Linked DNA regions of Homo sapiens: regions 1 and 2 are each linked to region 3. Evidence: fine-mapped QTL for protein levels in blood plasma. A gene starts in region 3. Each other region holds a variant in brackets. All regions are shown on one strand. Distances are from middle to middle. Region 1 overlaps C1QTNF1 (C1q and TNF related 1). Region 2 overlaps C1QTNF1 (C1q and TNF related 1). Region 3 holds the start of C1QTNF1 (C1q and TNF related 1).

Region 1 (9,958 bases), 19 kb before region 3:
CTCACCATCCCAAACCACCCACCAGCCCAACAAACACCACCAGCCATGCCTTTGCACACCCCATTCTGGCTACCAGGTAGCTTTCCCCTCCTTCTGCACCTGGGAGGCCCGCAGGTGTCCTTCAAGACCTAGTTCACTCCTTTCAGTCTTCCTGGGACCCGCTCCTCCCTCTCCTGGCCCTGCCTCCAGCGTCATGGGTACACCCCTACTACAAAGCCCACCACGCTGCCCTGTCTCTCATGTGTCTATCTCCCTCTCGGCCTCAGAGCTCCTGGAGGCCAGGACTGTGCCACTCATGTGTCCCCCCGTGCCTGGGGGATGGCCTGACTGATAGGAGGGGCTCAATCAAAGAAAGAGGAGGGAGAGGAAGAAAGAACGGAATGATGTGACTCAACCTCAAATCCTGTCCAATCCCATCGTACACTGAAGTTAGTCTGAAGCCTCAAGTATCAAGTCAGCCCAACGCTCAAAATAATGAAGAGACTCCAAGCCAGGCTTGAGCTGTCGCCGGGTCTCCAGGACCTCACTCTGGGTACATGGCAGTTGGATGAAGCACTCGGCTTCCCTAGGAAATGTCCCAGGTCGGCTGGAGTCTCTCTGTCATTGCAGGTCGTAGACACGAAGGCCATCCAGAGTCCTTCACAACCTTTCAAGGGAAGCCGACACTTGGCCCACCCAGTCTCCGCTGTCCTCTCCTGTCCTGCAGTGTGATAAGACGCGTGGGCCATGGACACCAGCTCTTGGTCCAGCATCTCTCCTAAGGCCATGCTCCACTTCTCCCTGCCTCCAAGTGGTGCCTAGGTCCCCAGCAGATATTCTCAGCGGACAAAGTGAGAATGGAAAGACAAACTGGAGGGCAGGTTGGGAGCTTGGTCTGCTCTTAAGGAGGCAGCTGCAAAGCCACTTGCAGACCCCACTCCTTTAGGCTCGTGGTGAGGCTGGATCACTGTCCGCAGTTTCAGGTGAGGTGCCCAAGCCACTGAAAGGAGGAATCGCTCGTCTGTCCTGCAGGACCAGCCTCCAGCAGGGCCACGGCTCAGCTTCAGCTTTCTTGCCTTCACATCTCACAGTGAACTAGCTCCCCCAGGGGCCCCAAGGCCCAGGCTCAGCCTGGCCAGAGCCAGAGCTCCTGCTATTACACCCTCGTGGCCCCTCACCTCTCGGCATGGTCCGGAGGCGACGGCAGCTCCTCAGTCCCCTCCCACTCCTGCTGTTCCCCCTGGACATGGGGCACACGACTCAGGACCAGGCCAGAGGCAAAGGCAAGGAGCAGGCAGTACGCCAGCAAGAGTCCCTGTCCACGGGAGCCCATCTTCCTGCCGGGCCCTGGTGGGAAAGAAACACACAGGGAAGGCACCGAGTTAGGAAGGAGCTGCACAGAGAAACAGCCTGAAAATTGGGGAGAGAAACAGCCTGGAAATCGGAGGTGCTTCCCCAGCCTCACGCCACTGGGAAATGCTGCAGTTACACAGCTTCTGGGAGGACAATCACTCTCACACACCCATGCATGCATACACGCACTCACGACGCACTCACGTGCACACACGCACATGCACACACATTCACATACATGCAACCCCCACACATGCACACACTCAACACACATGCAATCCACACATGCACACACAGTCACATACACTCACATGCAACCCACACATTCACATGCACCCAACACACATGCAATCCACACACATGTAATCCACACACATGTACACACAATACACATGCACAGTCTCAACAATGAAACCTACACACATGCATACATATACCCACATCACATGCACACTCATGCAATCCACGCACCCATATGCACACTCTTAACACACATGGAATCCACACGCTCACATGCACACAGTCAACACACATACACTCACACTCACATGCACATACATGCACATACACAGTCCACACACATGCACTCACACATGCAATCCACATGCTCACATGCACTCAACACACATGCACAACTCACATGCACACATACCCAAATCACATGCACACTCTCAACACACATGCACACACATGCATACATATACCCATATCACATGCACACAGATTCACACACACATGCAATCCACACACATGCACACTTTTACATGCACTCACACACATATACCATCACATGCACTCACATGCAATCCAACATGCACACACATTCACATACATGCAATCCATGCACACATGCACACACATACACACATGCAACCCACACACACATGCAACCCACACATGCACACACATTCATATACATGCAATCCACACACATGCACATTCGCATACATGCAATCCACACATGCACACTTTCAACACACGTGCACACATTAACATGCACACATATACCCACATCACATGCACACTCACGTGCACGCCCGCATACTCTCAACACATTCACATGCATGCACATCCACTCATGCACACATGCGCTCACATGTACACACACCTTCACATGTGCGCACACACTCTGCCCCCAGAGCCTCAGCCAGTCAGGCTGGTGTTGAGGGGTTGCTGAGCAAGGTGCTGTCTCTGCCCACCCAGCCTCTCGGGAAGGAGAGTCCATCAGCCGCTGGCCCCACAGACAATTGTATACCACCCCTCTTAGGACAGTAAGAAAAATCCCAAGCAAGCTTTGAATGATCATCATCCCTTAACTCAAAGCAAAGCTGGCTCAATGACCAGGTCCTTCACCGGTGGGTAGGTGGGTAGGAAGGTGGCTGCAAGCTGCTTTCTGGCCACCAGGCGGCGCATCAGCAGGTGTCCTTGGCATCTACTTTAGGGATGTGCCAAGCCCAGCCCCACAGAGCAGTCATCCTTCCAGGAAGCCAACCCCACGTCTCACTCCCAGAGCTTTTGGCAAAAGCTTGGGGCAGGACCCCCTCCATCCAGTATTGGGACAGTCCTTCTAGAAAGGGGTGCTCACGGAGGTGGGGAGTCCAGGGAGCCCGCGAGGGGCGGCACTTGGGCCCACATTAGGCGAACGCCCACCTGCCACCCTGTGAGCGGCTTGCTCCCCTCGCCCAGGAATCTGGCATCAGGAGTCGCAGGCCCAGCCGTTTCAGGTGGGCCGAAAACCTCCCCACCGAGGGGCACAGCGACTGTGGTCAACTCTAACCCCTCTTTGTTCACCAAAATGTAAAACTCGAAATGTCGCAGGCCCCGTGGGAACACCTCATTCAACACACAGCCGCCCAGTGAGAAGGTGGGTGAGAAGCGTCCCTCACTCCTGGCTGCCAGGCCGGCGTGGACTCCAGCTCTTTCTTGAGAGGCAAACAGTGAAAGCAAGGGCTCATCTCCAAAGGCCCTGGGCCAGACTCTTTCTCCTCTAACTCCTCTTATGTCTAAGGAAAGTTAAAATCCT[G/AAG]ACAGATTTCTTTCTCTGCCCATATTACACACCAAGATGACCGCGACGTCTTACTCATCTTGGGAAGCCGGGAATTTCTTCCACACACACCGTCGCTCGGGGGCTTTGGAGCCTCTGCGGGGGATGTCTGTAGCGGGCTTTTTTTTTTTTTTTTTGAGATGGAGTCTTGCTCTGTCACCCAGGCTGGAGTGCAGCAGTGTGATCTCGGCTCACTCCGCCTCCTAGGTTCAAGTGATTCTCCTGCCTCAGCCTCCCAAGCAGCTGGGATTACAAGCATGCGCCACCACGCCCAGCTAATTTTTGTATTTTTAGTAGAGACGGGGTTTCACCACGTTGGCCAGGCTGGTCTGGAACTTCTGACCTCAAGTGATCCACCCACCTCGGCCTCCCGAGGTGCTGGGATTCCAGGCGTGAGCCACGGCCCAGGACTTTAGTGGGCTCTTGAGTGAAGTCTGAAGGGCTCCCCGCAGAGCCCTCACGCCAAGTCAACATTGCAGGGGAAGATCTGGAGTCCAGGGCTCTCCCGATAGAGCCTCCGAGGTGACAGTGAGGAGAGCAAGGCTGGCCCCCCCGAACCTCTCTCCTCCCCTGTCACACATACCTACACCCAGTCTTCACCACCTTGCATGGCCCACGCCCCATCTCTGCAGTGGCTTAGCTGGAGCCCCCACCTCCAAGTGTCCTACCAGCCAGCTGTCCCTCCCATGCGTCAGGGCCCAGAGACCGTCCCAATGACCAAGGAGCTGCTTAGGCCACAGCCCCCACCCAGAATCTCTGATACCTCCCACCACTTGCCAAAAAAAGGGTGTATGTGCACATGGTAATTTATAAAATACACATCTAAGTTCTCTCTCCAGCTATCCGTCTAGTTAGGTTTGAGAACATTTCCTCATTAATAATTTTTATCCCATCACGGATGGCCCCACAATCCTCTAGGGAGACAATATACATTCATGACTGTAGCAGATATGTAAATGAGAAAACAGAGACTTGGAGAAGCTAATTAGCCTAAAATTCTGATTTTTTTTTTTGACAGGATCTCACTCTGTGAGTGAGTGCAGTGGTGCAATCTCGGCTCACTGCAGCCTCTGCCTCCTGGACTTGAGCCATCCTCCCACCTCAGCCTCACAAGTAGAAGGGACTGCAGGTATGCACTACCACACCCAGCTAATTTTTTTTTTTTTTTTTTTTTTTTGTAGAGACAAATTTTCACCATGTTGCCCAGGCTGGTCTCAAACTCCCGGGCTCAAGTGATCTGCCCACCTCAGCCTCCCAAAGTGCTGGGATTACAGGCGTGATCCTCCACGCCGGGCCAAGACTGATTTTTGAGCAGGGGGGCTGCATTTGGACTCAGACAGGCTGACAACAGATGACAATAAAATCCTGCCCGCCTTGTCTTCAACACCCAACTCAAGGTCTCATAGTCTTCCTGAAGCCTTCCCAGGCCCCTCAACTGGGAAAAATTCTCCATCCTCGGTCTTAGTTTTCTTTTTTGATACAGGGTCTCACTCTGCCTCCCTGTAGCCTCAACCCTCCCGGCTCAGGCCATCTGCCCACCTCAACCTCTCAAGCAGCTGGGACTACAGGCATGCGCCACCACGCCCAGCTAAATTTTTTTGTTGTTTTTTCGTAAAGACACGGTTTCACCGTGTTTCCCCGGCTCGTCTCAAACTCCTGAGCTCAAGCAATTCACCTGCCTTGGCCTCCCAAAGTACTGGGATTATAGGTGGGCGCCATAATTTTATTTTTCCTATTGTCTCCTACTGCAGAGAGTTTGTCTAGCCTATGAGAGTCTACTCAGCAGACCGTGGGTGACCTCCTCCAGGGCTGGGACGTCCCCTAGCCAAGCATCCTGCAGCACCCTGAATCACTGGTGCTCAGCAAATATTTGTCAGACTGAATTCTCTAAATTTGTTTATTTCTCCATTTCTGTATTTCCTCTGTTTCTCCTTGGTGCCTTAATAATTATTCTGTTTTTTCCTTTTAAGTGGCAAACTTGTACCAGTTAAAAGGAAAAGAGATTTTCCTTTCTTTAAATATTTTTTTCCTGAATCCCAAATTTTATATATACACATACACATGTTTACATATATATACATATATACATATTTACATATATATATATATACACACACACACACATATTTATTTAAGAGAGGTTGGAAAGTAACTACAAAACGCATTAAAAAGCTACCTTGGATTATTCTACTCTGTGGTTTCTCAACCCTGGCACCATTGAAGGATTGCTGGGTTTTTTTGTTTTATTTTATTTTGAGACAGAGTCTCGCTCTGTCACCCAGGCTGGAGTGAAGTGGCGCGATCTTGGCTCACTGCAACCTCCGCCTCCCAGGTTCAAGTTATTCTCCTGCCTCAGTCTCCCTAGTAACTGAGATTATATGCGTGTGCCTCCACACCCGGCTAATTTTTGTATTTTTAGTAGAGACAGGGTTTCGCCATGTTGGCCAGGCTGGTCTTGAACTACTCCTGACCTCAGGTGATCCATCTGCCTCGGCCTCCCAAAGTGCTGGGATTACGGGCGTTTGCCACCGCGCCAGCCAACCCTGGCACCATTGAGGTTTGGGCCTAGATAATCCCCTGTGGTGGGGGGCTAGCCTGTGTGCTGTAGGATGCTTAGCAGTAACCCTGGACTGTCCCCACCAGATGCCATTAGCACCACTACCTCTAGTTATGACAACAAAAAATGTCTCCAAACATGGTAATATGCCTGTTCCTCAGGGGCAAAATTGCCCCTAGCTAAGCACCAGCATTTGTTTTTATGTTGGTCTATCTCTTTCTAGTCTAGCAAAGGGATTTTCCACACCTTGGTCAGAAGAGACGGGGTCCAGGATGCAGCTGGGTTAGGAACGATGCTGTCACTGGGGTGGGGTGGGGCTGGGAAACCCCAGCAGAGAGCCCCAGGCTCAGGCTGGTAGGGACAAGGCCACTTTGGCGGTGGTGGCTCTCCTCAAAAGCCTGCTGTTCGGAGTCAGAGCAAACCCAGGTTGAAATCTTTCCTTCCTGAAAAGATCTTAAGAAGCATTTTACCAAATCCCACAGCAAAGCCAGCGTCATAACATGATGATCATTTTAGTCACTTTTGGGCAAAGACAGTATTGCCCAACATCTAACCAAACTTGGCTCCAGATCACTGTTAGTGATTTCCAGCAAAAATCCCCCTACAGTAGGGAGGCTGTGTCCCAGCAAGGTTATCTGGAAGAATGTGTTAGGCAGTTCCAGGGAAGTGCCCTGAGCACATCTTGGCCAGTGACGTGAAACCTGTGTGAATCCAGATCCACGTGGCCCAGTCTCCAGGCCTCATCGCAGGCAAGGCAACTGAAGACAGTTCCAGCATGACTCAAGCTCTTTACTTGCCTTTCCCAAATCCTGCAAATATGAGCCAATTTCCATGGTAATTCGGCGACCATTTTCCTTCCCTCCATGTCCCTGAGGACTAGCCGCTCTTCAGCGTCCCTTCCTCAACCCCACATCATCCACCTACACCTGACCTTCTCCCCAACAAGAACACATCCCCCTTTACAGGAGGAGGGAGGCCAGAAAAGAGAAACCAGGCTACACGCAGGACGTAGAGGAGGACAGGAAGCCTGAGGACACATCCTTGTGAATAATTTGTATCCCGGCCGGGCGCGGTGGCTCACGCCTGTAATCCCAACACTTTGGGAGGCCAAGGCAGGTGGATCACCTGAGGTCAGGAGTTCAAGACCAGCCTGGCCAACATGGTGAAACCCCATCTCTACTAAAAATACAAAAATTAGCTGGGCGTGGTGGGGTGCACCTGTAGTCCCAGCTACTCGGGAGGCTGAGGCAGGAGAATTGCTTGAACTCAGGAGGCAGAGGTTGTGGTGAGCCAAGATCGCGCCACTGCACTCCAGCCTGAGCAACAGAGTGAGACTCCGTCTCAAAAAAAAAAAGAAAAAGAAAAAAATTGTATCCCTTGTTTGCTTGTGGTGGCTCACACCTGTCATCCCAGCACTTTGGGAGGCCAAGGTGGGTAGATTGCTTGAGCCTAGGAATTCAAGACCATCCTGGACAACATGGTGAAGCCCCATCTCTACCAAAAACACAAAAATTAGCCAGGCATGGTGGTGTTCGCCTGTAGTCCCAGCAGCTGCTCAAGAGACTGAGGTAGGAGGATCACCTGAGTCCAGGAAGTCAAGGCTGCAGTAAGCCATGATCGCACCACTGCACTCTAGCCTGGGTGACAGAGTGAGACCCTGTGGTAATAATAATAATAATAATTTTTATCCCTCCACAGGCCTCTTAGCTCTGTGGTAGGTCCTTTAAGGAGAGAGTAGTCACATGCAAGTTCACCATTCCTTATATTTGTTTCAAATTGGGCCTTTTGGCTGGGCGCAGTGGCTCACGCCTGTAATCCCAGCACTTTAGGAGGCCGAGGAGGGTGGATCACTTGAAGTCAGGGGTTCGAGACCAGCCTGGCCAACATGGCAAATCCCTGTCTCTAGTAAAAATACCAAAATTGGCCGGGCACAGTGGCTCACACCTGTAATCCCAGCACTTTGGGAGGCCGAGGCGGGTGGATCACGAGGTCGGGAGATTGGAGACCATCCTAGCCAACATGGTGAAACCCTGGCTCTACTAAAAATACAAAAATTAGCTGGGCGTGGTGGCACGTGCCTGTAATCCCAGCTACTTGGGAGGCTGAGGCAGGAGAATCGCTTGAACCAGGGAGTCGGAGGTTGTGCTAAGCCGAGATCATGCCACTGCACTCCAGCCTGGCGACAGAGCGAGACTCCATCTCAAAAAAACAAAAACAAAAACAAAAAAATAGCTGGGCATGGTGAATAAATAAACAAATAAGTGGGTCCTGTTATATTTTTGTTTCACCTCCGTGCTCTCATGCTTGTGTGCTGACAGCGGACCTCTGAAGCTCTGGGACTATGTGCCTGGGTTTTGTCCTTATGCTCCACCCAGCGCAGGGCCTTTTGACAAAAGCATTCTGTAAACACTGTTTTCCTTTTTCTTTAATCCTCATCAGGTGAGCAGCTGTTCTGAGAGGCAAGAAGCCTATAATCTCCTTGAATTGGAAGGAGCCTTGGCAGACATGTCCAAGCTGCCCTCTCAGCTGACCATCTAACACAGGCTGGGTTTACTGAATGCCCATGATTTGCATGGCATTGTGCAAGAGCTTGGGAGGAAGTGATTCAACCAGGAATTAAATCTATTCCCTGACCTCAAGAATATAACAGGCTAGTGAAGGAAACAGACACGTACCCAATTATAGCTCAAGACAGAACAACACATGTTGAATTAAAATGCTAAGTGGGTAACATTCTAGAACTGTGCTGTCCGGTACAGTGGCTGTTATGTGTGGCTATTTAAATTTAAATTAATTAAAATGAAAGAAAATTCAAAATTCAGTTCTTCAGCTACACTAGCCGCATTTCAAGCATTCAATAACTATTAATACATGTAGGCTGGGCACAGTGGTTCATGTCTGTAATCTCAGCACCTTGGGAGGCCAAGGTGGGAGGATCGCCTGAGCCCAGGAGTTCAAGACCAGCCCGGGCAATATATCGAGACCCCATCTCTACAAAAAATGCAAAGATTAGCCAGGCATGGTAGTGTGCACCTGTAGTCCCAGCTACTCTGGAGGCTGAGGCAAGAGGACTGGTTGATCTCAGGGGGTTGAGGCTGCAGTGAGCCACGACTGCACCACTGCGCCCTAGCCTGGGCAACAGGGCAAGACCCTCTCTCAAAACATAAAAATAAAAAGCCACATGTAGCTAGTGGTTACCATGTTGGAAAGTATAGAATAGAACATTTCAATCATTGCAGAAAGTTTTGTTGGACAGCTCTGTTCTAGATTAAAATGAAGTCATCAAGGAGGAAGAGTAACTGTGAACAAACAGCAGGCCAGAAATCTGAGAGGCGTTTAGACCCTTTCCTCTCATGCATCCGCATCTCATCCATCCCCAGCCTGCTTGAATAGATCCTAAAGGTCAACTCTCCCTCCTGCCCTGTGCCTGTATCAGATGCCCTCCAGGGGCTCCGCTGTCCCCCAGACCTCAGTCCACCCAAGACAAGCATCTTCGTCTGCCTTTTCCAGGGTCTAGACATTGCCCCCGCCCCCAGTTTACATTCATCTCCCAAGGAAACTTGGCATAAGATAGGACTTTATCCCACATCTAGTGGTGTCCAGTTCAAGAATTGGATTCAGGCCAGGTATGGTGGCTCACGCCTATAATCCCAGCACTTTGGGAGGCTGAGGTGGGCAGATCACTTGAGGCCAAGAGCTCGAGGCCAGCCTGGCCAACATGGTAAAACCCTGTCTCTACTAAAAATACAAAAATTAGCTGGGTGCAGTGGTGTGTGTCTGTAATCCCAGCTACTCAGGAGGCTAAGACAGGAGAATCGCTTGAACCCAGGAGGCAGAGGTTGCAGTGAGCTGAGATCGCATCACTGCACTCCAACCTGTGCAACAAAGTGAGACTGTCTCAAAAAAAAAAAAAAATACGATTCAGCCCAGAACTCAAACACTCCTGGTTTCTACACAGCCTCAACGGCCCCTTAGCCATCACCACCCCTTCGTGCCATCCCCTCCAGCCACCTTTGGAACATCCCCAG
Region 2 (9,958 bases), 30 kb before region 3:
CTTGAACCTGGGAGGCAGAGGTTGCAGTGAGCCAAGATCATGCCACTGCCCTCCAGCCTGGGCAACAGTGCAAGACTCCATCTCAAAAAAACAAACAAACAAACAGTTTGTCTCCCCAAAAAGAAACCAACTAGCAGTCGTATTCTAATCCCCCCACCACACACAAGCAGCCTTGGAAACTTCTCGTCTGCTTTCTGTCTCCATGGATGTGCCTCCCCTGGAGATTTCATATAAATGGAATCCCACAATATGTGGTCTTCATGTCTGGTTTCTCGCACACAGTGTAATGTTTTGAGGTTCATTCCATGCTGTAGCATGCATCACTAATTCATTCCTTTTATAGCCAAATAATAGCCCATCATATGGACACACCACATTTTATTTATTCCGTTACCCACTGATGGACATTTGGGTTGCTTCCATTTTTTGGCTATTATGAATACTACTAGGAACATTGGAGTACAAGCTTTTGTGTGGGAGCTTGTCCTTATTTCTCTTGGGTATACACTTAGTGGAAGTACTGAGTCATGTGGAAACTCTATGTTTAACATTCTGAGAATTTTCCGACTGGTTTCCAAGATTATTATTTTCTTACTGGCGACATCCGTTGAGAATCGCCACCAAATTCACCATTATTCTAGGCCTGGATTCCTCCCTGCATCTCTCACCTTTCCTCTGCATTCATTTTCTCTCAGTGCAGGTTTTCCAGTGACAGAGTCTCCCAATTTTTGTTTGTTTGAAAATATCTTTTTAAAAATATTTTAATTGGAAATAGAACTGAGATGGACAGTTATTTCTAGCCCTTTAAACATTCCATTCCGCTATCTTGTGGCTTCTGCTCTTTTGCTTGTATTTGTTCATTCTCTTGTTGCTATAAAGAACTGCCTGAGACTGGGCAATTTACAAAGAAAAGAGGTTTAATTGGCTCACAGTTCTTCAGGCTGTAGAGGAAGCATGATGGCTTCTGGAGAGGCCTCAGGAAACTTTCAATCATGGCAGAAGGCAAAGGGGAAGCAGGCTGGTCTTGCATGGCCAGAGCAGGAGGAAGAGAGAGACGGGGAAGACATTTTGACACAACCAGATCTCATGTGAACTCTATCACAAGAACAGGGGGACTCAAGGGGGAACCACCCCCATGACCCAATCACCTCCCACCAGGCCCCATCTCCAACATTGGGAATTACAATTTGACATGCTTGGGTGAGGACACAAATCCAAACCACAGCAGAGGTCAGTTGTGATACTTATTATTGCTCCTGTGAAAGAAAATATTTTCCCCTCTGCTTTTAAGACTTTCTCTTGGTCTTTGGTTTTTAGTAGTTGTACCATGATATGCCATGCTGGCTGTGACCTTGGTTTTATTTGTCTTGCTTGGGATTCACTGAGTTTCTTGAATCTGTACCTTAGAGACTGATCAATTGGGTGATTTTTCTCAGCTATTTTATCTTCCAATATTTCTGTTGCCTTTTCTCTCTCATGTTGCCTCCTGGGACTCCAGTTGCACGTGTATTGGGCCTTCTTATTGTCACTTCTGTACTTTTGTTCTGTGTTTTCATCCTTTTGTCTTTCCATACTTCTTTCTAAATATTTTCTTCTGATTTCTCTTCTAATTCACTGATTTTTCTTTTCAGCTGTGTACAGTATGATGGTATATTTATCCACCAAATTCTTAGTTTATTTTTTTTTTTCTTTTTCTTTTTTTTTTTTTCTGAGACAGGGTCCCACTCTGTACCCCAGGCTGGAATGCAGTGGTGCAAGCATGGCTCACTGCAGCTTCCACCTCCCAGTTTCAAGTGGTCCTCCTGCCTCAGCCACCCAAGTAGCTGGGACTACAGGCATGTGCCACGATGCCCGGCTAGCTTTTGTATTTTTTTGTAAAGATGGGATTTTGCCATGTTGCCCAGGCTCTTAAATTCATTTGTTTTGTTTTTCACTTCTAGAGCTTCCATTTGCTTCTTTATTATCACCACCATCATCACCATCATTAAAGTTTTCTGCCACAAATATCAATCCTTTTTTTTTACCTCCCTGAATGTAGCAAGCATAGTTATTTTATATTCTGATTGTGATAACTCTAAATGGTAAGAGTTTTTTCCCTCATGTGGTAGGCATTTAATACATTCTTGTGGAATATCTCAGTAAGCAGGATCTCAAGTTGCTTGGAGAACTAACTTAGTGGCTATGTCAATTGAGCGGTTGGAACATTTCCTGTCTTTAGGCAAGGAGGTTTCCAAATTTTCCAGAGCATATGGACTTCTAATCCTATCTATAAAAGTGTCTGAAGTAGAAATTCCTTGTCCTTGCCTGGCCATCTGCATAATGAGAAATGGGCTTACTCCATTCTGCCCTAGGAAGGGCAGGATATGGGAGCACTTGAGGTCACCATAGTTTCCCATCCCTGCCCCAGCTGTGGAAGGACTTTAGAGAGGAAGACATGGTCCTCAATTAGTCATTCCTTGTGGAATGCTTCCCCTGGCACCTGCATCAGCCTCCTGCTGACTCTGTGATCTCACCCACCAGTTGATTCAAAAATGCTTGTTCAACAATGTCCTTGGAAAAACTAACCCTGACACTCCCATCCCATCTCACTGGCCCTTGGCCCCTGTGCCATCGTAAGCCAAGCCCAGAACAATGGGACCAACTCTGAAGGTCATGACTCTGGAGCTCCAGGACTTTCCAGCCTTGAATAGAGAAGGCTGCGGCAGCCTAATTTTTTGGTTTTGTGTTACTTGTTTTGATAACTGCTGTTTATTGAGATATTATTTACATACCATAGAATCATCCATTTAAAGTGTAGAATTCAGTAATTTTTAGTTTAGATTTGCTTATTCTGGTCATTTCATATAAATGGAATCATGCAACGTATGGCCTTTTCTGTCTGGCTTCTTTCCCTTTTGATAATGTTTCTGAGGTTTACCAATGTTGTAGTAGGTAATAGCACTTCATTCCTTTTTTTTTTTTTTTTTTTTTTTTTGAGATGGAGTGAGTCTTGCTCTGTCACCCAGGCTCTGGAATGCAGTGGCACGATCTCCGCTCACTGCAACCTCTGCCTCCCAGGTTCAAGCAATTCTCCTGCCTCAGACTCCCAAGTAGCTGGGATTACAGGCACACACCACTACGCCTGGCTAATTTTTGTATTTTTTTAGTAGAAACAGGGCTTCACCATGTTGGCCAGGCTGGTCTCGAACTCCTGACCTTGTGATCTGCCTGCTTTGTATAGACACACTGCATTTGTTTACCTGTTCATCAGCTGAGTGGGCACTTGGGTTGTACCTGCTTCTTTGTTATTACTAATAATGCTGCTATGAACATCTATCTATAAGCTTTTCATAGACATATATTTTCATGTCTTTTGGGTATATACCTAGAAGTGTTATGGCTGGGTCAGCTGTAGCTCTATGCTTAACATTTTGAGGAACTGCCAGGCTGTCTTCTAAAGGGGACTCACCATTTTGTATTCCTGACAGCAGTTCCAGCAGCTCCATATCCTCAGCAACACATGTTATCATCTGTCTTCTTGACAACAGCCTTCCCATTGGTTGTAGAGTTGTCTCACTGTGGTTTTGATTTGCGTTTCCCTGATGATACACCTGTTCATGTGTGTATTGGTGGTTGTAGAGTTGTGTCTCACTGTGGTTTTGACTTGCATTTCTCTGATGATTACACCTGTTCATGTGTGTATTGGTTACTTGTATATCTCCTCTGGAGAAGTGTGGGCTGCTTTGCCCATTTTTAATTAGATTATTTGTCTTTTTATTATTGAGTTGCAAGAGTTCTTTATATATTCTAGATATAAGTCCCTTATCAGATATATGATGGCAAATATTTTCTCCCATTCTGTGAGTTGTCTTTTCACTTACTTGATGGTGTCCTTTGAAACACAGAAATTTACAAGTTTGATGATGTGCAGTTGATCTATTTTTTTCTTTTGTTGCTTGTACCTTTGATATCATACCTAAGAAATCATCACCTAATCCAAGGTCATGAAGATGTATGCCTGGGCTTTCTTCTAAGAATTTTGTAGTTTTGGCTCTAATATTTAGGCCTTTGATCCAAGGCCTAATTTTCGTATATGGTGTGAGGTAGGGGCCCAACTCCATTCTTTTGCATGTTGGGACATCGATATCTTGCATTATTTATTATTTTCTGTTACATTCTATTTTTTTTTAATAATCTGGGCAACAATGTCTCATCTTATGCTAGTCATTATGGCCCAATAAAATCAGCTTGCCATCACGCCACTGCGTTCCCATAGTGGACCTTACAGAAAATTATCATTGAGGACTAGTGTGGGCCATGACCTCCTCATCCCCATCCCTGGCTACAAAAGCTCCTGAAAGTCCTAACATAGGCAGTTATTTCGTTGGGCTGAGTCATCAGCCATTACTAAGTCCTTTTGCTAAAACACTGATATTTGTATTGCAACTGAGTTTTCTAGACCCTTTAGTGAGATGGCTAGCCAATTTCTCACCAGCTTGGGACAGGAAACCGGGAGAGGATCCCGTCAAGATCAACTGCTTGGGGAGGCATCAGGTGGAGCAGATCACTTGGTACCAAGCGTGCAGCTCTTCTGAGAAGGCTGACCTCTGTCAGACGGCAGTCGAAACCCTGGGAAAGTCCTCAGGAAGGCAAGGACCATATCTTATCTGTCCTTATGCCTCCAGTGCCTAGCACACGATCTGCCACAAAGCAGGAGCAAGGGAAATATTTGGAGGAAGAATGGGTGGAGCATAAATGCCAGCCTGAAAATATTGGGGGTGGGGAAACCCCAAAGATAGAGGGATGTTAAAAGGAGCATGGAGCGGACTGGAGCAGACCCTGCCTCTTTTCCCATGGGAATTTGGCCAGCAGAGAAACAGGTATTATATGGTCCACGTGACTCCGTCTCCAGAGAGGGTTGTCATTGGGCACCTGTATGAAGCTGGCTGGTTCCCTCCAGGCACCTCTGGGAAGGGCACTTAGCCCTTGCTCCCCACTGCCTGGGAAGCACATCCTCTGCTGAGTGGCCTGAACTCCGCGGAGGTAGGAGCCTGCTCCTTCTCCCGTACAGAGCAGGATTGCAGGGTCCCCTTGATCCAGTCTGGCTCTAGCACAAGGCCAAGCATGAACACATGGCCTCACCCCAGGAGCGGGCAGAGGAAGGAGATCAGCTGTTTGCAGCCTGCTGGCACCAGAGAGAGCAAGGTAGCTTCTGTGCTCCCCGCTGGCAGCTGGATGCAGTGCCTGGCTGTTAACCCAGTTGGCAAGCGATGGAGAGAAGAAGGAACATCTGCTCTGCACCACTGGAGAACAGAGGGGGCTGCTGATGGGTGTATTCAAGCTGCAAGCCATGGTAGAGGTTGAACTGTATCCCCCAAAAAAAGATATGTCCAAGTCCTCACCTCTGCTATCTGTGAATGTCACCTTATTTGGAAATAGTCTTTGCAGACGTAATTAAGTTAGGATCTAGAGAGAAGACCATCCTGGATTTACAGTGGGCCCTAAATATTTACCTGATTCTCTAAATCCAGCAACAGGTGTTATAGTAAGGGAAGGGAGAGGAAGATTTGAGACACACGGAGGGGAAGGCCACATGAAGACGGAAGCAGAACCTGAGGAGATGCAGCCGCAAGCCAAGGAGTGCCTGGGGCTACCAATAGCTGGAAGGGGCAGGAAGGACCCTCCGCTAGAGGCTTATGCCACCCACGCCCCAACCCCAGTTTCCACGGCAGCCCTAGGAAAGGAATAGTGTCCAGGCTGCAGAGCCATGGCCAAGCTGCTACCTCCACAGTTTCTCTCCCTCCCGGGGGACAGTGCGGTCCTGCTCAGGAGATCAAGCCCCTGCCTCCCACCCACCTCTCACAAGTCCCCAGACCCACCCAGGCCCCAGGCGCCCGACTCAGGCACACGTTCAGCTGCAGCTGAGACACGCTGTCGCTGCCCCACCCATGGGAGGCTGCACCCCCTGGAGGAGCGAGGCAACTCAGGGTCCAGCATGCACCTGCTGGGTACCAATGTCCCCAGGTATGAAGCTGAGGGCCTCCCAGGCAGGAGTGGGCCTTGGGTGGAGAGGAGAAGACGAAAAGGATTCAGTTTAATGAGCAAACTGACGAGGCAGGATGCTGAAAACACAATTCTGAGTTTAATGTTTTCTGGAAAGAGCTGGGGGAGCTTAAGCAGCGAGTGTGGCGCTCTGCTTCCGGGCACGCCCACAGCAACTCGGCTTCAGAGTCTGACCCGCAGAAGTTCTTTAAAGAGAGGGACTTAGGGACCCCAGATCCCGGCAGCCAGGCCCAGAGAGGGAAGCAGGATTAGTCAAAACCAGGTGGGGGATGGGGGGAAGGAAGAGAGGCAGCGGGGGTTTGGGGGCCCAGCGGGTAGCAAGAGTGACCCTGGGCATCAACATGGGGTGAGGTGGAGAGGGGCTATGGGGTTCCTGGAGATCAGAGTCTGGGGTGGCCATGGGCAGGGCGAGAGCACCG[T/C]GGAGACACCGCAACCCTGCTCCAGCTGGTCCTGCAATTGCCACAGGGGCTATTGCCTCTCCTGCCACCCAGCTCCTGAGAGTGAATCCTGACACGGGTGATTGGGACGTGTACTTCCTCTTGACTCTGGTCTCAGGACTGAGGCTCACAGGAGCCTGAGAAACAGACAAGCGGGAGCTTTCTAGCCCCTTCCAGCTCTCCCCTGCTCTGAAGCCTAGAAAAAGCCCCTCTCAGGCTACTGGTCAGAGGCCTGGATGAGGGCAGTGGGGGCAGAAGGGGTCTGGATCAGCCTTGCTGCCAACCAACACAACACACGTGGAAGCGGTGATGCTTAGCCCACGAGGAGATGGGAGACTGCAGTGCTGCTTGAGGTGTTTTATAAAAAACAGAAGCCAAGGCCCCGGGGCCTTCTGGGGCTGATTTGTGTGGGAGGCGGCACAGAAAGCCGATGCCAGGGTGGCAGGCATGGAGACCACCCCCCAGGGCTCTGGGGTGGCACAGGGGTGGAGCAGAGCCACACATGGATGTACCAGGAGCTCTGCCCCTCATAGAAACATCTGCAGGCCTGGGGGACCCAGGGGTCCCTGGCCACTGTCAGGAGCCCTTCGGCTGCTTCTACCAACCTGGAGCCAAGGCAGGGGGCTCAGCTGTCCCTCTGGGAGGCTGACGCCTGGGGCCCCAGCCCCCATCACCTCGCAGCTGTGACTCAGAAAGACCAGCAGAGCCCTTGGGCAAGGCCACAGGGATGTCAGGGTCCACCTATCCCTCAAGAAAGTTCCTACGTGGCTTAAAAGAATTAAGCCAGAGGTAGTTTCCTGCCCCCGGCCCCTCCCCTGACCCCAGAGCTTTAACTTTGGATCTTCTCTTAAGCAGAGTCTCAACTGAAAAGGCCTCTCTCTTGGGAGCCAGCAGGCTGGCTGGAAAGACAAAAATAACAACCCTTTTCTTTGTCCTCCACGGTTTACTTTGCTCCTTTTGAGACCTTTAGAATTTGCCTAATTATTTCCAAGGACTGGAGCCGCGGTGCCGCACCCTGGGACGCCCTGCCGCCACCCGCGTCTCGCCGTGCGGGGTCACTTGAGGATGTGTGCAGAGAGGGCCGCGGAAGGTCCCAGAGGGTTCTCGCGGGTGCCCCGCCCTGGTGATTTCATCTGCCGTCAGCTCTCTCCAGAGGCTGCGGGATCTGGGAGCACCGATCGCTTTGGCTTTCTGTGTGTGCAGGGCGTCTCACTGAATGCCAAAGCCAGGGAGTCGGAGTCCAGGGATCGGGGAAGAGGCGGTGGGGTCAGCACAGCGCAGGGGTGGAAGGTGGCGAGAGGAAAGGAGGTGGCCGGCCAGCTAGGGCTCGGTGGCGTGCTTGACCAGGTAGCCACTGAAGGTGATGTAGGTGTCCAGCTCCTCGCTGAAGATGGCGTTCTCACGTTCGCCCTTGTAGAGGCGTACCCACACCTGGTCCTGCTCTCGCAGCTCCAGCATCAGGCTCTGGCTTTGCATGATGCTGCGGTCGCCCACCTGCGCGAACAAGATCACCACCTCCTCCTCGTTCTTCATGATGTGCAGGTAGGTCTCCTTCTGGTTCCAGGTGTGCACGTTGAGGCTGAAGAAGTAGAGGCCGGGCACGTAGCAGTAGAACTTGCCGGTGAACATGTTGAAGTGGTCGTAGAGGTTCACGAACTCCGTGTCGAAGATCACCGTCTGGTAGTAGTGGTTGCTGTGCATGGGCTTCTTCCGGCCCACCGAAAAGGCGGCGTAGTGGCTCTTGCACCGCTCCCCAGGGGCCCCCATGGAGCCCTTCTGCCCTTTGGGTCCAGTGTGGCCCCTGGCCCCTGCTGAGCCTGTTTTGCCATATTTCCCTTGGAGGCCTCGATCTCCGCGGTCACCCTTCTCCCCTAAAAGGGATGGGAAAACGCGTGCTGTTAATGGAGCAATCCGGTAGTGTCCTGAGCCTTGGCTGCTCACTCTCCGGTCCCTGGCGCTGTCCTGATTCGTCCTCACAGCCCTGACCTGGCAGAAGCTTCACTCCTGCCCCCAGCCCCCTGCCACGGGCGGCGTCCCAGCCTGGCACAGAGGTATTGTGATTCCCAAAATGGCCAAGCAAACAGACTCAACCTCAAGGATGGTTCTATTTTCGCCCAGAAGCAATAATTTTTTTTTCCTTCTGGAAAGCCCTGGTAAAAAAAAAAAAAAAGAAAAGAAAAAAAAGAAAATGGAACATACGGGTTCGTCCAAAAGCAATGGGCTCTGCGGCCAGACCGACGGCTCGCTCTGAGCAAATGAACTCCAGATGTCGGGGCCAGCTGGGGATCTAGGCTGCAAGTGTTTCCAGTTCGATTTCACGGGGCTGTGCAGGGTTATCTGCCGTGTGCAGGACCGGAGCGAGCAGGTGGCATTTCAGAAAGCAGGCTGGGGGACCAAGCCCCAAAGCAAAGGGCCTAGAAGCCTGGCGTCCACATACAACTGGAGGGACGAGACCCCGAGTAGCCTCTGGGCTCCCTCTCCTGCTCTTGGTCCTGTGGGCCCCTTTCCAACCCCTCCTCTTGGAGAGGGGCCAGAGCCTCAAAATCAGAATTTCCTGTGCCTTCCCCTCTAGATGACAGCCTGCCTGCCTCTGCTCCCTGTCCCGAGGGAGCCATTCTGCTCTCGCCTAGCCCCACCCTAACGACTCCATCCCTTCCTCCGGATCAGCACAGAGCAGCCCGGCCACCCCGTGCTTGTCTTTGCAGCCATCTGACCTTTCAAGATAGTGATGTTGATCTGGGGCACGGCGGTCGCCGGGTACATGGAGGTACCGGGGTCACAGCAGCGCAAGCACCGGGAAGCAGGGAGCCCCTGGTCCTGACTGGGCCTGTATTTTTCATGTTGTTCTTCAGCCCTGAGGGAATAAAGAATCACAGTGAAAGTCAGCCACTCTCAGGCCTGGAAACGCTGCTCTCTCCTGCTGCCAGTGGTTCTGGCATGCCTGACCTGCCTTCTCACTCTCTCACCTGGACCCACAAGGCTCTGTGTTCACGCTGGTGGGCTCACGGCCCACTCTGGGATCCTCACTACCGAACGAGCCCCCTGCCCTCTGTTAAAGGCAATGACAGTCCTGGAAACACACGCAGCGATCAATTGAGTGCCACGCAAGATGGGGGCTGCTCGGGAGAAATCCACACTTCTAAGAGAGGGTCTTTGGGTGACACAAGACAATGCCGGGACTCCCTATCGTATATCCGTGATGCTAGAAAATAACATATGAAGCTGACTCGTCTGCAAATAAGAAGGTTCAACTGGATCTTTAGGATTCCCCTCAGCTGTAGCCGCTGGAGAGACTCTTATGTTTCCAACCTGATTGGAAGGACAAGCCCGCAGGCAGGATGGACGGCGGCGGCTCCTGGCTGCCACCTCGCGGCCCCTCATGGCATCACATGTGCTCTGGCTTGTGGCTCTTCTTGCCCAGGCTGTAGAGCTGCGCAGACCCACGGGGGCAGCAAAGTCCCCCTGGATGGGCCAGCTCC
Region 3 (9,791 bases):
GCCACTGTTGTTGTTGGGTGGACTCTAGGGGCCTCTCCAGCTCTGCAGCTCTAAGAGGGAGGGTGGGGAAGCTTCTGCTTGTCCTCAGACCTCGGCTCCCATCTCCCTGTCTTGGTTCCCTCCTCCCCGGTTGGCAGGTGCTGGAGAGGCCTCCTGGAGCACGTCCTCCCATGTCCTCCCGCTCCCTGCAGCACACACCACAGCCAAGTGCGTCTATCTGTGGCTGTTCATGGCTGCACGGCCTGCCAGGGAGTGTGTACTTTCCTGCACTATAAAAAGCAGAGGCCGGGCAGCCTGTAAGGACATCACATGCTCCCCTGGGGCTGTGAAGTGGCCAGCGGTGGAGAAAACAGTTTCTCACGGCATTTCTCATGTTCAAAGCTCAGGACCAGAAAGCTCCCAGCACGTCATGTTGCCTCCTTTCCTAGAAACTAGGTGGGGTAGAAGAGTCAGGAACACCTCACAGAGGGGGGCGGCTTCCTCCCTCCCTCCCAAGCAGGGATGAGTCGGCCCAAGGGTGCCTGAAGCACGCGGAGGGTCCAGAGAAGATAATCTGGCTTTCTGGGGCTGGAAGAGTGTGGCCCGGGTATTGGCCCCGCGAGGCCCGGGCTAACAGTGGGGACCACACCTGCACCGGTGGAGAAGCCATGGAGGGCTGGGTGGTGGGCGGTGGGTCCACCTGCGAGGTCCAGAAGCCCCAGGGCGGCTCAGAGGCTCCAGCCCCAGGCCGGGGGGGCCACTCCCAGCGGCACAGGCAGCTTCGCTTCCCAGGAGGGCCCCGGGGAAGCAACACCGTTTTTTCCTGCCCAAGCTGGACCCCCTCCAGGACACCAAGGCTGTCAGATGCGGGGGGCCAAAGTCAGCGCTTCCTATTCCGTGAAGGTCCAGGTTGGCCACAGACAGGACTGGACAGACCCGGCGGTCAGGTGGTCCCAGTGATAAGGAGTGGGGTGAGGGCATCCCCGCCAGGTGCAGCCGCGGGCATTAGTACCATTCCTCTTCCTTCCACACCCTCAGAAAGGCACCAGAGAACAGTGAAACAAGATAAACACCCCACAAAAAACTAGGGGGAAGGTGCAATTCCTCCCGTTAGTATCCACGTGCAGAAAAGCCCCGCTCCTCCACAGTCAGGGAGACCCGGGACCATTATGACCCCCGCGCAAAGGCGCCTATGGCGGGGGCTGAGCCAGAGCCAGACGCCAGGGCTGCCCCCGAAAACCCGGGTCTTTCCGCCCCTGCGCCGCCACCGCCAACCGGCCCCTCCCACGGCGCTCTCCGTCCGTCCCGGCCCAGGTGTCTGCCATCCCCGCCCTGGCCACCAGGCTGAAGCCACGAGGATGGGGCGGGGCAGCGCTGGGTCCCCCGGCCCGGCCACCTACCTCCGTCCCGCCGGCCGCTCCTCCCGCGCCGCCCCTAGAGCATCTCCCGCCGGCCAAGCCTCCTCCCGGCCAGGTCCGGGGCGATGCACAGACTCGGTGAAGGAAACAGAGCAGGGGAAAAGGTCTTCCGGAGGACGGCAGTGCAGAAGAGGAGGGTGGGGGGCGGTACGAGCAGCCACAGGTCCCCCCCACCCACAGCACCTCCGTCTCCCCGGCGCGGTCTCCGAGGTCTCTGCGACCAGAAGCGGAAGCGCGGTTTCTCGAAAGTAAAGGAAGAGAGGGAGAAAGTGGGACAGACGCGCAAGGAGCGAAGCCCAGCCAGATGTGAGCAGCGAGGAGCCTCCAACACCCCCAGCGCTTTTCGTCCAAACAGCAGCCGCGGAGGATTAACCGTGTGTGCCCCGCGCCGCGCCTCAGGGAAATCCAGCGGCCGCCTCCTCCCGGCCCCCTGGGGAGCCCGCCAGGCTGAGAGTGGGGGTGGGGCAGATTCCGTGAGTCTGGAGGTCCGTCCAGAGGCGGAGGGGCTGCGAGCCCCGGACGAGAATGCCCCCCGCAGGATGGGGGTGCCCAGCAAGGCTGAGCGCTCCTAGTCACTTGGTAGCAGAGGGATGAGCCCCAAGGCCTCCGGGATCCGCTGTGGCCAACCCTGAGGGGTCAGGTCTCCAAACAGTGGCAGACCTGAGACGCCCTGTGCATTATCGGGGACTCAGACAGGTTTGGGGGAATCTGTGAACCCCCTATAACAAAATGCCAAACTGTGTGTGTGTGTGTGTGTGTGTGTGTGTGTGTGCGCGCGCGCGCATCACCTTTGGAAGGTGATGGTCCACTGTTTTGTTCAGAGTCTTGAGAGCTCTGTGATCTAAAGGTTAGGAAGGAGCCCCTGCCGGGAAGATTTCCATTTTCTAGAGAACAGCACGAGTACAGTGGTGAGCCCAGGATGGCTGGAAGCACTCCTCAGTCTCTATCAGGCCTCTCATTCCTTGATATGAAAACCTGACATTTTCTCAGTCATACACAAATATTTTTTCTGAACAAGGCCCGTAGGCTGCCCTCCCATCCTGATCCCTGATCCAGGCTGCTCCAGAGCCGGCCCTGGTTGGGACCCAGTCTCCATCCCTAGACTCTGCGTCAGCCCAGCTTGCTCTGGAAACTTACCATATCACTAGCAGGGGAAGGATTTGGCCAGAGAAGCAGAAGCCAGCTCTGATGATAACAGCATTCCCCCTTTTTTTGCTTCTTTTTTCCCCCCTCTGCCCTGTTCTCTCCGAGCTGCCCCTCACCTCGATGTTGCAGCTGGATTTTTTTGTTTTGTTATCCCTCCTGTGAGGGTCTGTCTCTGGACAAACAGGAGATGCGAAAATGGGGATGCTGGTTGGGACATTCAGAGCAAAACTAAGAGGCCTCACCTTTCCCTGCCTGGAGTGTCCTCCCATCCGCCGCACCAACAACTGGACAGATGAAAAGAATCAAAAAGGAGAGGAAGAAGAGGGTGCAAGCACAATGCCCACTGCCTTGCCCCAGGCTGGGCGAGGCCAGCACTCAGGTAGAGCTGAGGACAAATGGAGATGAGAACAGAAGGGGAGGCTTCCGGGCAGGCGAGGCGCCCAAAAGCCACTCCACAGAGGCCCTGACTGCATGCGTCAACCCCTCCTGTGAGTACAGGGAGAAAGGCTGCCAGGCCTCCAGCACCCAGGGGGAACTCAGAGGACACGATGGGGATATGAAGTCAACACTACTTAACCAACTAGAGATGCAGCCTCCGCTAGGCTTAGAAGATCAGGGGTTGCTTGTGTTCTTGGCATACGTGTCTGAGGCTTGGCAAAACCTACATCCCTGGTTGCTTATTGATACAGGAAAAGCCAGAGATAAGCTTGTCTCCATTCCTGTAAGTGACATGAGGAAGTTTCCCAGTCACCAGGAGCAAGGCTTAGCACACGGACTGACCTTTCCTTAGTTACTCTGTCCTCAAATAGCCCTTGGTGCAGGGATACCAGAGAAAACAACAGCATTTTTTGCAGCCCTTATGAGACCTTCGTCCATACTTCAGAGAATCTGGGACTTTCTAGAACTCTTACGAGCTAGGAAATCCCTCAGTGCAATGAGAAGGCTTCTTGTTGCCCTGCCTGGGAGCCTCAGACTCAGGAAAGTCGTGGGCAGATACCAGAATTCACAAAGCGGGACACACAGCTTGAAAGAGAAAGAGATGCAGATGATGGGCTGGGTGTGGTGGCTCACACCTTTAATCCCAGCACTTTGGGAGGCTGAGGCGGGAGGATCACTTGAGCCCAGGAGTTTAAAACCAGCCTGGGCAACATAGTGAGACCTTGTCTCTACAAAATATAAAACAATTAGCTGGGCTTGGCAGCACACACCTGTAATCCCAGCTACTCAGGAGGCTGAGGTGAGAGGATCCCTTGAGCCCAGGAGGTCAAGGCTGCAGTGAGCCCTAATCATGGCATTGCATTCCAGCCTGGGCAACAGAGCAAGACCCCCATCTCAAAAAAAAAAAAAAAAGTTGTGGATGATGGAATATTTATTCTTTCTCTTTACCCCATCCAAGATGGCTTTGGTGTTGAAGAACTGGAAAACAGTTATCTTTAACACAATTCCAAGACAGAACTCAGAGGCCCAATATAGTGCAAAGTTCTAGAAAGACAGCTGAAGGCTGGTCATCTCTTCCAGGTGCACCTGGCTCATCCTACTAGGAGGTCTTGTCCCGGCTCTGTCCTACCTTGAGGCAGCCTGGGGATGCTACCAAACTTCAGTGGGCCTTAGCTTCCTTATCTACAAAGCAGAGATAGGTCCAGGGTCTCTTATCTGGAACCAAGGAGGTCAGATATGTTCAGAGTCAGATGCAAATATCCCACAAAGCATCTTACCCAGTGGGCTTCGGGCAGCGCCCCTTCGTTAAACACTTGAATATTCGGCAGTGGGATGAAGGCATCCATAGTCTCAGGATAGTTCAAGCCACATTGTTCTGTCAAATTTGTGTGTGCCAACTTTAGGGAAAAACTAAGGTTTCAGATTTTTTGCATTTCAGGGATTTTGGAGAAGTGATTGTGAACCTGTAGCTTCTCACATGATTAATAAAAAGGTTGGTGGAACAGACACATTGTTCATTGCAACTACCATTATTACAAGTATAATCTTCCTTCCATCCTCTTGGGAAGAGGAGGGAAGGAGGAGATTAGAAAAGGGATTACTCATTTTCCTTGAGGCAGAAACTGGGGATAGGGAGGAGTGGTATCAAACGGTAACAAAGAGAGCCTGGGGTTTCCCAAGATCTTGTGTGAGACCCAAGGCTCGGAGGCATGGGAACTTCCAAAGAATAGGAGTTGAGGTCTGAGCACATGTCTTAGGTGCCACCATCATGGCTCACAACTCAAGGCAGCAGGCAATGGGCAAAGACTCACAAGGCCAGCTCCCAGAGAATACAAGCTTGTCCTCAATAAAGTGAAAAAAAAAATCCAAAATAGAGAGCATGCCAGGTTCCTAATGCTCTTTGTCATCAACTTCACTTCTGCTTTGTAATTTTAAGTAGGAAAGATGGAAACTTTGGCAAGCAAGGGATGTCCTTGCAGAGTGGCTGATTTTCTTCCTTCTCAGCCTTAGGTGCCCCCAAGCAACAAGAGGCAGAGTGTTTTCCCTTTGGCAAAATCCTTTCCTGTTGGGCAACAACAACAGAAATCAAAAATAAAAATCAGCCACAGTGCCTGGGGGATTTCATCAGCCCTGAGATTATGGGTCAGAAGTCAAAGCCAACTTCCAGAAAGACTGAGTCCCCTCCCCAAGGTCTCTCTCTTAGCCCCCACAAACCCATCCTAAAACTCCCTAGGAGCTCACATCTACACAAGGTGTCTGGGTCAAAACCCCTAAAGGCTTCCTGAATATTCCCAAATCATCCCATATTCTTAGTCAAGGGTAGATCCTAGAATGGGAAGAAATATTTCCTGGAACCCCTGGCAGGGAAGGCAGCACGTTCTGTGCCCTCCCTGATTTGGTAATTCTTTCTCTCTCCCTGGGCCTGTCACCACCACTCGCTGGGTCTGTTTACTTATTGCTGGAAAAAGCAATGTGATCTCAGTTAAAGTCTGCAAGACACTCGGTTCCAGATAAGCACAGCATGTCATTAGCAGCACTGTGAGTTTTCCCACCGCGGCCCTAACATCCCGCCTTTCCCAGCTATTTTGGGTCGGGCTGCCCAGTCATCCCACAAGGGCAGAGATTGGTATTGCAAACTTTGAATTCTGTTCCCAAGGGTAGCGACCGGCCGGCTCCGATGGTGACGTCCCACTGCCAAGGGGTGGGAGTGGGGAGAGTCTCCACAGAGCTTCGGAGAAGCTGCTAAGATGGAAAAGTGGAAACTTGGCAGACAGATCCAGCCTCCCTGGCCACTGGCCCATGCTCGTGGCTCCTGGATGGCGCTGCCACGTTCTGAGCAGCTTGGGACAGGTGGAGATCAGGACTGGCAGCTGCAAGGACACACCAGGTGAATAGGTTTCTTTATGGTCCTCACACCTGCAGAAAACCAGGAGGGTAAGGGCGTTCCCTCTTCCAGGAAGCCATGCCTTTCCACAGAAGTCTCCCCTGAGGCCATGTACACGTGTGCCTTGCAACTCTATCAAGCCATTTAATTTCCCTATGCCTCAGTTTCCTCACCTCTGAATATTTACTCTCCTGTTTTGGCAATGAATGTTTTCAGTTACATGGAGACAGGCATATACTGATCGACTAGGCAATATTTTACTTGATAAATAAGATGGGAGGGCCCCCTGGTGGACTCCCCAGTTCCAAGCACTTAACTATGAAATGAGTGAGTAAATGCATGTCAACATATGAATGAATGATTCAATAAAGAATGTCTTGTCCTTTATGCAGAGCCACAGAAACTAAAGAGAATTTCCAAAAGGAGTCTATGGTGAAGTCTCTGAGGATGCAAAGAAGACAAGGAGAATGAAAATCCAATGAAAGCCTGATTGTATTTGTTGACCTTAAGGAAAGTGATTTTATGGTACAGCCTCTCTGGAAGGGAGGGTGTGTTCGCTCACAGAATGCAAATACCCTTTGACCCCCTAATCTTTCTTCTAGGAGTTTCTCCTACAGATAAACTTAGAAGGGTGCTCAAATAAGTAAGTTCAAGGATATCCTCTGAAGCATTGCCGTAGTATAAAAAAAGCACAGATACCCTCAAAGGACATCATTAGGGGCCTGGTAAAATAAATTCCACACAGTGGAACACCGTGTAGCTCTTTAGAGAATAAACAGCTCTCTATATGTGATCTGGAACAATCTCCAAGCTATATTGTGAAGTGAAAATTACAAACCCTTACTGAAAAGCACTAAAGAAAATCCAAAGAAATGGAAAAGCAAAGCGTGGTCTTAGATAGAAGACTCAATATCATTAAAAAAAAAAAAAAACTCAGTTCTCGCTCAATTAAGCTATAGATTCCAAGCAATTCCATTCAAAATCCCAGAAGGTTGAAGGTGGGTGAGGTAGGAGGGGACTTGTCCTACATCATAGGAAGGCTTATTATAAAGACATAATAATGAAGATACTGGTATTGGAACAGATGTGATCAAGTATATTAGTTCAACATGATAGAAGGCCCACCCGACAAAGACCCATGTGTGTATGAAAACTTGATCTATGACAAAATTGGCATTGCACGTATATCAATGGGGATGGGATGGATCAATTCCTAAAAACACACAAGATGATGGGGAATCCACAGAAAAAGAAACGTAAACAGCCAAAAAGTGTAAGAAAAGATATACAACCTCACAGTAATCAGGCAAGGAGAAGACACTGATTACCATCAGATTGGCAAAATTAAGCCATCTGATGATGTCTGTGGAGCTGTTACTGGAAAGGGTCCCAAACCAGACCCCAAGAGAGGGTTCTTTGATCTTGAGCAAGAAAGAATTTGGGATAAGTCCACAGGGTAAAATACAAGCAAGTTTATCAAGAGAGTAAAGGAGGCCGGACGCAGTGGCTCATGCCTGTAATGCCAACACTTCAGAAGGCCGAGACAGGCAGACCACCTGAGATCAGTTCAAGACCACCCTGGCCAACATGGTGAACCCCCATCTCTACTAAAAATATAATTACCCCTATTTACCCCTATTCCTGCCTAACCTCCCAGGAATACAGCCCAGCAGGTCTCAGCCTTATTTTACCCAGCCCCTGTTCAAGTAGCATGCCTGTAATCCCAGCTACTCAGAAGGCTGTGGCATGAGAATCACTTGAACGTGGGAGATGGAGGTTGCAGAGAGCCAAGATTGCGCCATTGCACTCCAACCTGGGCAATAGAGCAACACTGTGCCAAAAAAAAAAAAAAAAAAAAGAAAGAAAAGAAAAGAAAAATGGCTATTCCATAGGCAGAGCACCCCCAAAGGCTGCTGGTTGGCTATTTTTATGGTTATGTCTTGATCATATGCTAAACAAGGGGTGGATTATTCATGAGCTTTCTGGGAAAGGGGCAAGAATTTCTTGTAATTGAGGGTTTCTCCCCGTCATAGGCCATACAGGGTAACTTCCAGACGTTCCCATGGCCTTTGTAAACTGCCACGGTGCTGGTGGGAGTGTTTTTTTAGCATGCTAATGTATTATAATTAGCATATAATGAGCAGTTGGGACAACTAGAGGTCACTTTTGTTGCCATCTTGGTTTTGGCAGGTTTTGGCCAGCCTTTATACTGCATCCTGTTATATGAGCAGGGTCATTGTGGCCTGTATCTTGTGACCTCCTATCTCATCTCAGATCCCGGGAGGTTAAAATGCCTTAACCTCCCAGGAATGTGGCCCAGCAGGTCTCAGCATCATTTTACCCAGCCCCTATTCAAGTTAAAGTTGCTCTGCTTCCAATGCCTCTGACATATTTCCCCCCTCCTTTTTACAAGAGGACCACTAATCCTAAGGGTTGTAGAGGTAGGAAGATTCCCCTTCTGTAGCTTCTTCAGGCTAAATAGGAGTAATGATATTCTCATCTAACTATTAAGGTCTTTTGTATTCAGGGTAGAGAGGAACTCAGTCAGAAAGCATCAGCATACTGACGGCCATTCATAACTCTGAGTTCCAACAAAAGGTGATATCTGGAAGACTGGCAAATGTTCAATTTAAGAAAACGGCGAGTAAGCTTATTCTGCATTCCTACACAACGAGTACAACAGGAATATATTCCACAATAGTAAAGCAAAATAAGTAAAATTATCTGATATGGTTTGCATCTGTGTCCCCACCAAATCTCATGTCCGATTATAGTCCCCAAAGTTGGAGGTAGGGCCTGATGGGAGGTGACTGGATCACTGGGGCAGTTTCTCATGAATGGTTTGGCCCCATCCCCCTTGGTCATGATAGTGGGTGAGTTCTCGTGAGATCTGGTTGTTTAAAAGTGTATGGTACCTCCTCGCTCTCTCTCTTTCTCCTGCTCCTGTCATGTAAGAGGCCTCTCCCCCTTTGCCTTAGGCCATGACTAAAAGCTCCCTGAGGCCTCCCCAGAAGCAGATGCTGCCATGCTTCCTGTACAGCCTGCAGAACCGTGAGCCATTAAATCTTGTTGCTTTATAAGTTACCCAGTCTTGGGTATTTCTCTATAGCAGTGTGAGAATGGATTAATACTTTATCCCAAATAAATTAAATAAGGCATTCCATCAACTGGGCAACTGTTGGAACTAAGCTGATATGGGGTTGCTAACAGATTCCAATATGTGCCCTGAATTAGAATACTGATCCAGATATTTCTTATGTTACCCATCCCTATTATTTGTTCTGAGCCATGGCCAGAGATCACTGGTTGGTTCACAGAAATAAGCAGGGTCAGTCTAGACTGCAGAAAAAAAAAAAAAAAACAATGAATGAGACTAGAATCTAATAACAGGTGTACCATAGTTTTTGAAACCTAATTTTTCTCTCTCCAGTCCCCATTTTTATTAAAAACAAATAATGGTAGGACTTATTTGTTTGAAAAATAAACCTTAGTCTTATTATACTTGGCATGATCATTTGCATGAAGTGCAGTAAGAATAATTATTCACCATATAGGCTCTTTTTACAAAAAAATGGCTTTGATGGAATCTTGTTCCATAAGGAATCTTATATTTGACTTTTTAAAGCCTTGCCCAGCCATGGGTTTATGCCTTCAAATACCTGTATGAGTTAGGTAAATTTCTCTCGTCTCAAAGTCCCAATATAACTTAGGGCTCCTGAACCTGTCACAAAGTGACATTCTTTACTTACCACATGGCAGGAACCCTGTACAGGGACTGCATAGACAAGGTATAAAGCCAGTTTTTCCAAGGGCCTTTTATTAGCTCTATAAGTCAACTTTGATTCCTTAAGGCAGTTTTTTTTATATTTGAAAGCACGCCATTCCATTCAAAGCCTTAGTAAAACCCAATTTCTCCAATTGTGTCC

What was found. PIP is the posterior inclusion probability: the model's chance that the variant is causal. Protein levels are from antibody-based Olink assays in UK Biobank. Linkage for the fine-mapping came from a reference panel and not from the study's own genotypes, which makes the PIPs less certain.
Region 1: its variant is fine-mapped to the plasma level of the C1QTNF1 protein (UK Biobank, PIP above 0.99).
Region 2: its variant is fine-mapped to the plasma level of the C1QTNF1 protein (UK Biobank, PIP above 0.99).

Annotation. Positions count from the first base shown.
Region 1 is chr17:79,035,323-79,045,280 of GRCh38, reverse strand. C1QTNF1 (C1q and TNF related 1) reads right to left here. Exons shown (of 4, transcript NM_030968.5): 2 at 1,158-1,326. The coding sequence starts at 1,312. Among named protein-coding and RNA genes, the nearest start is that of C1QTNF1-AS1, 13 kb to the right of the region's middle. RefSeq lists an enhancer at 816-1,316. The variant G/AAG (reference allele first, on the strand shown) is at 3,356.
Region 2 is chr17:79,045,930-79,055,887 of GRCh38, reverse strand. C1QTNF1 (C1q and TNF related 1) reads right to left here. Exons shown (of 4, transcript NM_030968.5): 3 at 9,194-9,333; 4 at 6,100-8,350. The coding sequence ends at 7,800. Among named protein-coding and RNA genes, the nearest start is that of C1QTNF1-AS1, 23 kb to the right of the region's middle. RefSeq lists an enhancer at 8,035-9,234. The variant T/C (reference allele first, on the strand shown) is at 6,462.
Region 3 is chr17:79,016,083-79,025,873 of GRCh38, reverse strand. It overlaps C1QTNF1 (C1q and TNF related 1), which reads right to left and starts at 1,705. Exons shown (of 4, transcript NM_030968.5): 1 at 1,380-1,705. C1QTNF1-AS1 (C1QTNF1 antisense RNA 1) reads left to right here. Exons shown (of 3, transcript NR_040019.1): 2 at 5,638-5,868; 3 at 6,258-6,665. RefSeq lists a silencer at 1,284-1,373.